Linked DNA regions of Homo sapiens. Changing the gene in region 2 together with the main gene of any one other region gives a genetic interaction. Each region holds a gene or a part of one and is shown on either strand. Other genes may lie near its edges.

Region 1 (3,812 bases), on a different chromosome or scaffold from region 2:
TAGCCAGGGTGGTCTCCATCTCCTGACCTCATGATCCACCCGCCTCGGCCTCCCAAAGTGCTGGGATTACAGGCAGGAGCCACCAAGCCCAGCCACTTTTGTCATTTTTGTATGGTTATTCTATTTAAGGCAATTGGTTCTCCATCAATTTAGTGATATAAACTCTGCTCACATAATTAATTTTATATGCCTTTGAATAGACACAGGGTAACTCTGGAAGGATAGACAAGAAACTGGTGACAGTGGCTGCCTCTAGTGAGGGGAACTCAGAAGCTGGGGACAGGAATGGATTGGAAACTTAGTTTTATCAGTTTACCCTTTTGTATATTTTGAACCTACTCAAAAAATAAGTAAATCTTAGTTTAAAAATAAATTTAAAGGCCAGGTGTGGTGGCTCATGCCTGTAATCCTAGCACTTTGAGAGGCCGAGGCAGGCGGATCACGAGGTCAGGAGATCAAGGCCATCCTGGCCAACATGGTGAAACCCCGTTTCTACTAAAAATACAAAAAATTAGCCAGGCATGGTGGCACGCGCCTGTAGTCCTAGCTACTTGGAAGGCTGAGGCAGGAGAATCGCTTGAACCCGGGAGGTGGAGGTTGCAGTGAGCCGAGATCACGCCACTGCACTCCAGCCTGGGTGACAGAGAGACTACATCTCAAAAAATAAATAAATAAATAAATAAATAAAAATAAAAATAAATAAATAAATAAATTTAAGCAAATAAAGACTTACAGGTAAGGTTTTGGGTAAGGGAATATTGTGAAGATGGTGGTCCAGGGCCTGGGCTGGCACACATGGGCCCTTCCCCTCAGCCCTGGCTTTCCCTGGCCGCCCCAGGCTCCCAGTATCAGGTGCAGGGGAGGAGAGGAAGTAAAGGGTGCCATACTTACGTCCTGACTGACCTGTAAAGACACCGTATGGTAGCTGGCAGGCACGCCTTCGTCCTCATCATCATCACTCTGCCCGCCCCGAGAGGCATGTTGGCTGGAGGTTCGAGGCCGGCGAAGCATTGATCCCTCTTTGGATTTCTTCTTGAAGCGGTTCCCTTTGCTGTCATATTTGTGACTCTTGCCACGTTTCTCCTGGGACTTGCATCCTGAGCAGAGCCAGACTCAGGTCACATTTCTGTGTCTATATAGGCATAGATACCCTGCCTTTTCTCCCCTCTCAGCCTCTCCCCTGCATAATTGCATGGCTACTCCCCAGCTGCCCCCTCATCAGCTGACCCACCGCCATTCAGACTGGCCTCCACAAAGATCCGGAGAGTCTTGACGCAGAGCTCAAAGTTGTCAGGTGTGATGTGGGCAGCATCACGCACAATGAAGGACAGCGATTCCACACACTTAAGCAGAGACTTAGTGTCGTGTGGCCCCAAATCCAGTCCCACTGTTAGGCTGTATTGATTGATCAGGGGTGAAGGGCCTGGGCGGCTGGGCCCTGGCTTGGAGTTATCAACGTCATCCTTCCCAACCTGTAAAGTACACAGAGGAGCTGGGGACACAGGCTTGGCCCCTGTGTGAATGTCCTTGCAGAGGACCAGGAATTCTTCCCACAGGTCAAGCAGGAGAGACTCAATTGCTGCCCATATTGTCACTCACCACTAACCAACCACTGTTGACCACATCGGCATCTGTGGCTGATCGGTGTATCTTGCCCGGCCTGCCATGGTCAGTGTAGACCTCTGAGTCGGAAGTGTACCCTCGATCCAGGCTCACGTCATTCTGATGGTAGGATGGGAGCTCACTATCTGACTGGGCCCCTATGGTAGGCAGGGAGAAGGGCAGAGTCAGGGTGGGGATGGGGCACTGGGATGAGGGATAAATCAGGCTCTCAGAAAAAAGATGCTGAGGCCTGGCCTCCCCTCTCTCTGGCATAGTTTAATTTCTGTCACCAGAGGGCCAAAGGATGGCCGGAACAGTTTCTCTGTTGACCAAATAAGGTGGCAGGCTAATCTGGGTTCCTGATGGCATCTAGTGGCAGCTGTAGCACCACTCTAGGGAGTGGTGGCAAGGACAAATAAGCAATGCAGAAGGCTATGAAGCCAGGCTTTCCACTGTCCTGAGGACTGTTTTCCCAGTTTCTGGGATTTAGTGATGTATCGATTTAGTGATATAAAGTCTGCTCACAGAATTCTATTTTCCCAGAATTCTGGGAAAACAGTCCTCGGGACAGCTCAGAAACAGAAACTGGGAAACAGTCCTCAGGACAAATCAGTCCTCAGGACAGTAGGAAGCCTGGCTTCACAGCCGTCTGCATTGCTTATTTGCCCTCATGCTATTTAACTTATGGGTACTAGCCAGCGGGCACTGGAAGCTCTGGAAGTGATGGCAGGAGCCAGGGCTGTTTAATCTGCTGAACACAGTAACCTGTGTTTTGTTTTCCTGTCCCAACTCCTGGGGTGTAACTGTTTATCTGCCAGCCTGAGTCTCCCTGGGAAAGGGCTTACCGGCATCAGGTGCATCTGCCCTGGCTGTGGCCTGCAGAGCAGCTGGAGGCTTCACACCTGAGCCGATGCACTCCAGCAGTGTGAAGAGTGTGGCCCAGTCATCACCTGAGTGGATGTTGGCTGCATTGGTCTTCAGGAGTTCATGGAGCCCATACGCAACCTGGTGGCTGACTCGGGATAGCACACTGGGCTTCATCAGTAGCAAAATGCGCAGGGAGAGCAGCACCTGGAGTGGGGTTAGGGCAGGGAGCGGGGAAGCGGGGAGCTGTGTGGGCACACAGCTTCCTGTCTAGTTTTCTTTCCCACCAGTCTCCTTAGGCCAGTGAAGACAGTTTGGCTAGGACCCAATTTAGGATACTGCTCTGGTCTTTTTTTTTTTTTTCAAATAGAAATATATTAATTATATTATTTGAGACAGGGTCTTGGTCTGTCTCCCAGGCTGGAGCACAGTAGCACAATCACAGCTCACTGCAACCTGAAACTCCTGGGCTCAAGTGATCCTCCTGCCTCAGTCTCTGGAGTAGCTGGGACTACAGGTGCATGTGACCACACCTGGCTAATTTTTTTTTTCTTTTTTGGAAAGATGGGGTCTCGCTATGTTGCCCAGGCTGGTCTTGAACTCCCAGGCTCAAGCGATCTTCCCGTCTCAGCCTCCTGAAGTGCTGGGATTATAGGCATGAGCCACTGCACCCAGCCTCAAATACAAATTTTTATTGAGAAAATTATAGGCTCATATGCAGTTGTAAAGAAATAATACAAAAAGGTCCCTTATACACTTTGCCCAGTTTATCCCAATGGTAACATTATGCAAAACTATAGTATAATATCATAATCAAGATACTATCTGATCTTATTCAGATTTCCTGTTTTACTTGCATTTTTGTGTGTATTAATTTCTATACAATTTTATTACCTGTGTAGGTTTGGGTATCCACCACAAAACAACATACTGAACAGTTCCACCACAACAGTATCCCTCATGTTGCCTTTTTCTTTTTTTAGAGACAGGTTTTGCTCTGTCACCCAGGCTGGAGTGCAGTGGTATGATCATAGCTCACAGCAGCCTCAAACTCCTGGGCGCAAGTGATCCTCCTGTCTCAGCCTCCAGAGTAGCTGGAACTACAGGCATGCACCACCATGCCCAGCTCATGTTGCCCTTTTATAACCACACCCACCTCCTCCTTCCTGCCCCCATCCCTAATCCTTAGCAATCTGTCTTCAAATTCTTTTTTTTTTTGAGATGGAGTCTTACTCTGTTGCCCAGGCTAGAGTGCAGGCAGGATCTCAGCTCACTGCAACCTCTGCTTCCCATGTTCAAGTGATTCTCCTGCCTCAGCCTCCCAAGTAGATGGGATTACAGGTGCG
Region 2 (4,584 bases):
TTGGGTTGTAATGGACAGGAATGAAGACACTCTTGTTATATGCAAAAAAAATATTAAGTATTTGCAGACAACATACATTTAAAATCATTTTAAAACTCTATGGCTGTAACAGGACCTTTTCAATCTCTAGAAAAATTAAATCGTGTACACACAAAGTTTAATAGTCCGTTAAAAAGTGTGAAAAATTGAAGCTTGTAAGGAAACAGTCCAGAACTACCAACCCAAATAAAAATGGCACTTTCCTGCTAACATCTACACACTGGTATGTTCGTTTTGGACAGCAACAATGTGCATTGGGGTGGGGGGTGAGGGACAGGAGGAGAAGGGTCATTTACATATTTCTCAATCCAAGTATATGAATTTAGAGGCCTTCCTCAAAAATACATGCACTCCTAAGCCTCCAAAGTCATGCTGCTATATTTAAGCATATAAAAACAGTCAGAACATATCAGGCATGTTAAAAGACAAGAAACAAACCTTTTTTCTTTTGACATGTGTGTGTCTTCCTCCAGAAAGAACGTCACGCTGTACCGAGTCTGGACATTCACTTTCTTGGCTCCCCAACAGCTGCACCTTACAAGAAAGTAAGGTGTGACACTCAGAAATGGCCACAATGGACTCAGATGGGGTCTTTGAGTCACGACAGCCTTTCTCATTTTCCCCTGATGTTTGAAAAGGAGCCTTAAAATTTAAAGGGTTGTAGGGGTCATCAGAATTACAGAATGAGTTCCACAGTTTGAGACTCTCTGCTTCATCTGCACTAGATTCCCAGTCATCTTCCTCCCCAGAACTATGCTCAGGGGTCTCAGGAAGGCTTCCAGACTGGGAGGAATTCTCTAGATCAGACTTGCCAGACAAATCCTTCTCTGAATCAGAAGGCTCTTCAGGAACAATTCTGGCAGCAGTCTGAATTGTTGCTGTAAAGTTCTGGGGATTATAAGGATCTACACTGCAGAAAGAGTTCCAAAGGTGAAGCCCTTCAGGGTCTTGTTCAAGGTCTGAGTCTGACAGTGAGCTATCACTATCAAAACCATCATCCTCAGCTTCCTCATCCCAATCCTCACCTTCTGGATCAGAACTTGTTTCCAGGTCACTGGATGCACCTCCCAAAATATAATCTATCAGTTTGTTACTACAAGCTGGTCTGGCAGAAATGGGAAGGTCACCTTCTAGGTATGAGTAATCAACTACACTTATTCGGCCCTCTCCAGGCTCCTTTTCCATAGGTATCTCACTAGATGGACAGCCCTCAGAAGGGCTCTCTTCTTCCAAAGCAAGTGGAACCTCTGTAGTTAATAATTCTATTTTTTCTTCAGTGGATTCCTGGGTGTTTCCAGGAATGTCTCCAGCAGCAGGAACAAACTGTGTTGGGTTATCTCTGCAGTGTTTTGGATCCATCCGGAGAAGGCTGTGTTCCTCCTCCAGGCTGTGGTAGCCATTATCCTGGTCAGGGGTGGGTAAATCTTGCCCCTTGCTAGCCTGTTGAAGGAATTCCAGCCGTTTCATGCGAAGATGGTGAATTTCTGGTAGGCCTTCCGTAGAAAGAGGTGGACATCCCTGCCACGAGGCCGGAATGAGTTCTGCACTCAGCGGCTGGGGATGACAATGGTCCTCTCTCAGGCAGCTGCTCTCTGGGGTTAGTGTCTGGAAGCCGACTACCTCGCTATTTCCATCACTGTTCTGATAGCTGACTTCTAGCCTAGGAAAGCAGTCCAGGTAGGAAGGGTTCAGCAAATAGGATACCACACTGAAATTGTCTATGCGTTGAATGTTTAGAGGCCCAGAGGGCGAAGAGCCAAGTTCCCGGTTAGAGTACAGACGGGATTGAAGGCTACTGGGCAACAGCTCCACTCCCCACAGCTGCTGCTCTAAGAGAAAAGCCTGTGCTGCAGGGTCCAAAGCACTTCCCTTGGCCTTAAGCTCCAATTTTAGGTCTGGGGGCGAGTATTGCCAGTGGATCCCCTCCTCTAGCCAATCAAGGGGACTGGTGACCGAGGGGTCTGAGGAGTCGAGCTGCAGCGAACTCAAAGATTTCTGCGCTGTGGGGGCGGCTGGTTTCTCCCGTCCCTTCAGGGCTCTCAGGGCGCTGTAGACTCCAGCAAAATCTAGCCATCTGGTCGGAAACATTCCACCGAAAAGTTGGCTCCAAATTAGCACCTTCTGAAGCAATCCGGGGAGCGGCGCAAGGAGCTGGGAGAGCAGTTTCGTCCAGTAACTGACCCGAGTCTCGGGCTGGGCAGAGGAAAGCAGTGTGGGGTTCCCGGAGTTTTCCGGGCCAAGAGGCGTCGGGAACTTAGAAGAGCCTGCTTGCGATCGCCGAGGGAAAAAGGGTGGCCAGAACCGGAAGCCCGCCCGAGGGCCAAGCCGTTTCCGCGATCCGCCTGTCCCCGGCTCCATCTCCTTTTTCTTGACAGTCTCTCAGGTAGGGCCGCGGCGCTCAGCGGCTGGAGGTCGACGGGATTCGGAGGAAGCCTACAGAGTCTCGGCCTTGCCCAGCGGTGGCGTCGCTGCTCCAGGCCGATCTTCGAGCCAGCAGAAAAGCCACAGAGGGCAGCGAATGCGGCAGCGGGCGGCAGAACACAGGGAAGAACAGCCCGCGCAATAGGCGGCGACTGATGCGACTTCCATCCTGGCGGGGAAGGAGGTTCCCTAGTCGGCTCGACGCTTCAACACCATGGATAGGAGTCCCCCCACGGCCTCGGCGATGGTTTTCCGACTGACAGAGGGTTGAAAAGCCCCTGAGCAACGCGATACCGGAAGGACTGGGTAGGCCGGCTGGTGCGGTGGAAGCGAAGCCCAAAATGGCCGCAGGGCCCGCGCGCCGGCAGGACACCCCCCTAGACGCCGGAAGAGACGCAGGACTGTTGGGCGTCTACGTCCCTAGCGCCGCGCCGCCCAACGTCACTCGCAAAATCCCCGGGGGGCGGGCCTTTCCGCCCACTTCCGTGTGGCCGCCGATTGGTTTTGCCAGATTTCCCTGTCGGCTTCCTTACTCGAGGTAGAGCCGCACGGCAGCGTGAGGTTGCATCAGCCGGGGCGGGGGGGGGGGGGGGGGGGGGGGGGGGAATGCACGCATGCGCAGTCGTTTCTGTGTGGTCTCCTAGGAGACCGCCCCAACAGCCCTCTAGGTTAAAGGTCTTGGGGAGGGGAGGGGTTTTCAAAATAACCCGAGAATTTCCCGGAGGCGTTTTGATGGCCTAATACACACTGACGTGTGTACAGTCATCCCCTCTCATGAAATGGGGATTAGTTCCAGGACCCCGTAGACACCAGAATCCGCAGACGGTCAAGTCCCTTATGTAAAATGGTATAGTGTTTGCATATAACCTGCATACACCTTCCCAGATATTTAAACCATCCCCTAGATTAAGTATAATACCTAATACAATGCAAGTGCTATGGAACTAGTTGTTATACTGTATTTATTTGTATTATGTTTTATTATCTTTATTTTTCCCGAATATTTTCAATCCATGGAAGGTTGAATGCCCCGCGGGCCAACTGTAGGGTTATCGTAGTCTTAGATTTTTATTATTTATTTATTTGAGACAGGGTCTAGCTCTGTCGCCCAGGCTGGAGTGCAGTAGTGCGATCTCGGCTCACTGCAGCCTCAACCTCCTGGGCTCCAGTGAGCCTCCCACCTCAGCCTCCCGAGGAGCTGGGACTACAGGCTCGCACCACCACGCCCAGCTAAATTTTTTTTTTTTTTGAGACGGATTCCCACTCTGTCGCCAGGCTGGAGTGCAGTGGCGCAATCTCGGCTCACTGCAACCTCCGCCTCCCGGGTTCAAGCGATTCTCCTGCCCCAGCCTCCCTAGTAGCTGGTACTACAGGCGTGTGCCACCACGCCCAGTTAATTTTTTGTATTTTTAGTAGAGACAGGGTTTCACCATGTTGGCTAGGATGGTCTCGATCTCCTGACCTTGTGATCCGCCCGCCTCAGCCTCCCAAAGTGCTGGGATTACAGGCGTGAGCCACCGTGCTCGGCCAATTTTTGCATATTTTTATAGAGACAGGGTTTCGTCGTGTTGCCCAGGTTGGTTTCAAACTCAGCTCAAGTGATCTGCCCGCCTCGGCCTCCTAAAGTGCTGGGGTTACAGGCGTGAGCCACTGCGCCCAGCCTGACAGATATTTCAGGGTTCTCCTATTGTTCAGTACTATGTAGACCATCAACCTGAGATCTTATGTAAAAGTTGGGCAGTGCTGCGTACATACATGTCTGGTGTGGGGCAAACTAAACTCACAGAGAAGCAGCTCAGTCCCCAGAACTATTTACTCTCTTTTATGCTTCCAAGCAGGCAACATATTCAATTCATATTTATTAATACTTCCTTAGCAACCAGAACCACAGAATACAACAGCCAAAAAGGAAACATGGACCACTATCCTTTGAAAAAAAAAATGGCTGGTAATTTTAATTGCTGTATTTGATTATCTCTTGTGAGTTTGGTCTTAGTTCATTTCTTTATTTCTGCTAAAACTCTGTAATAGATACCCCTGAAGTCAAGTACCAATTACAGAGGGAGGGTGGCAGTTATGAGCACTAGGGACAGCAGAAAAATCTTTAGGGAGCTGGGAGGAGAC

Evidence for each region.
Region 1: changes in PPP1R15B (region 2) and GBF1 together harm fitness more than expected from each alone (negative genetic interaction), as found in Homo sapiens cells (one study listed by BioGRID).

What each region holds. Positions count from the first base shown.
Region 1 is NC_000010.11:102,374,220-102,378,031, reverse strand, and holds part of GBF1 (Golgi-specific brefeldin A-resistance guanine nucleotide exchange factor 1), read right to left. Parts: intron 2,674-3,812; coding exon 2,448-2,673; intron 1,761-2,447; coding exon 1,600-1,760; intron 1,473-1,599; coding exon 1,232-1,472; intron 1,098-1,231; coding exon 892-1,097; intron 1-891. UniProt on the Homo sapiens protein: Guanine-nucleotide exchange factor (GEF) for members of the Arf family of small GTPases involved in trafficking in the early secretory pathway; its GEF activity initiates the coating of nascent vesicles via the localized generation of activated ARFs through replacement of GDP with GTP.
Region 2 is NC_000001.11:204,409,015-204,413,598, forward strand, and holds the start of PPP1R15B (protein phosphatase 1 regulatory subunit 15B), read right to left. Parts: upstream 2,804-4,584; 5' UTR 2,398-2,803; coding exon 478-2,397; intron 1-477. UniProt on the Homo sapiens protein: Maintains low levels of EIF2S1 phosphorylation in unstressed cells by promoting its dephosphorylation by PP1.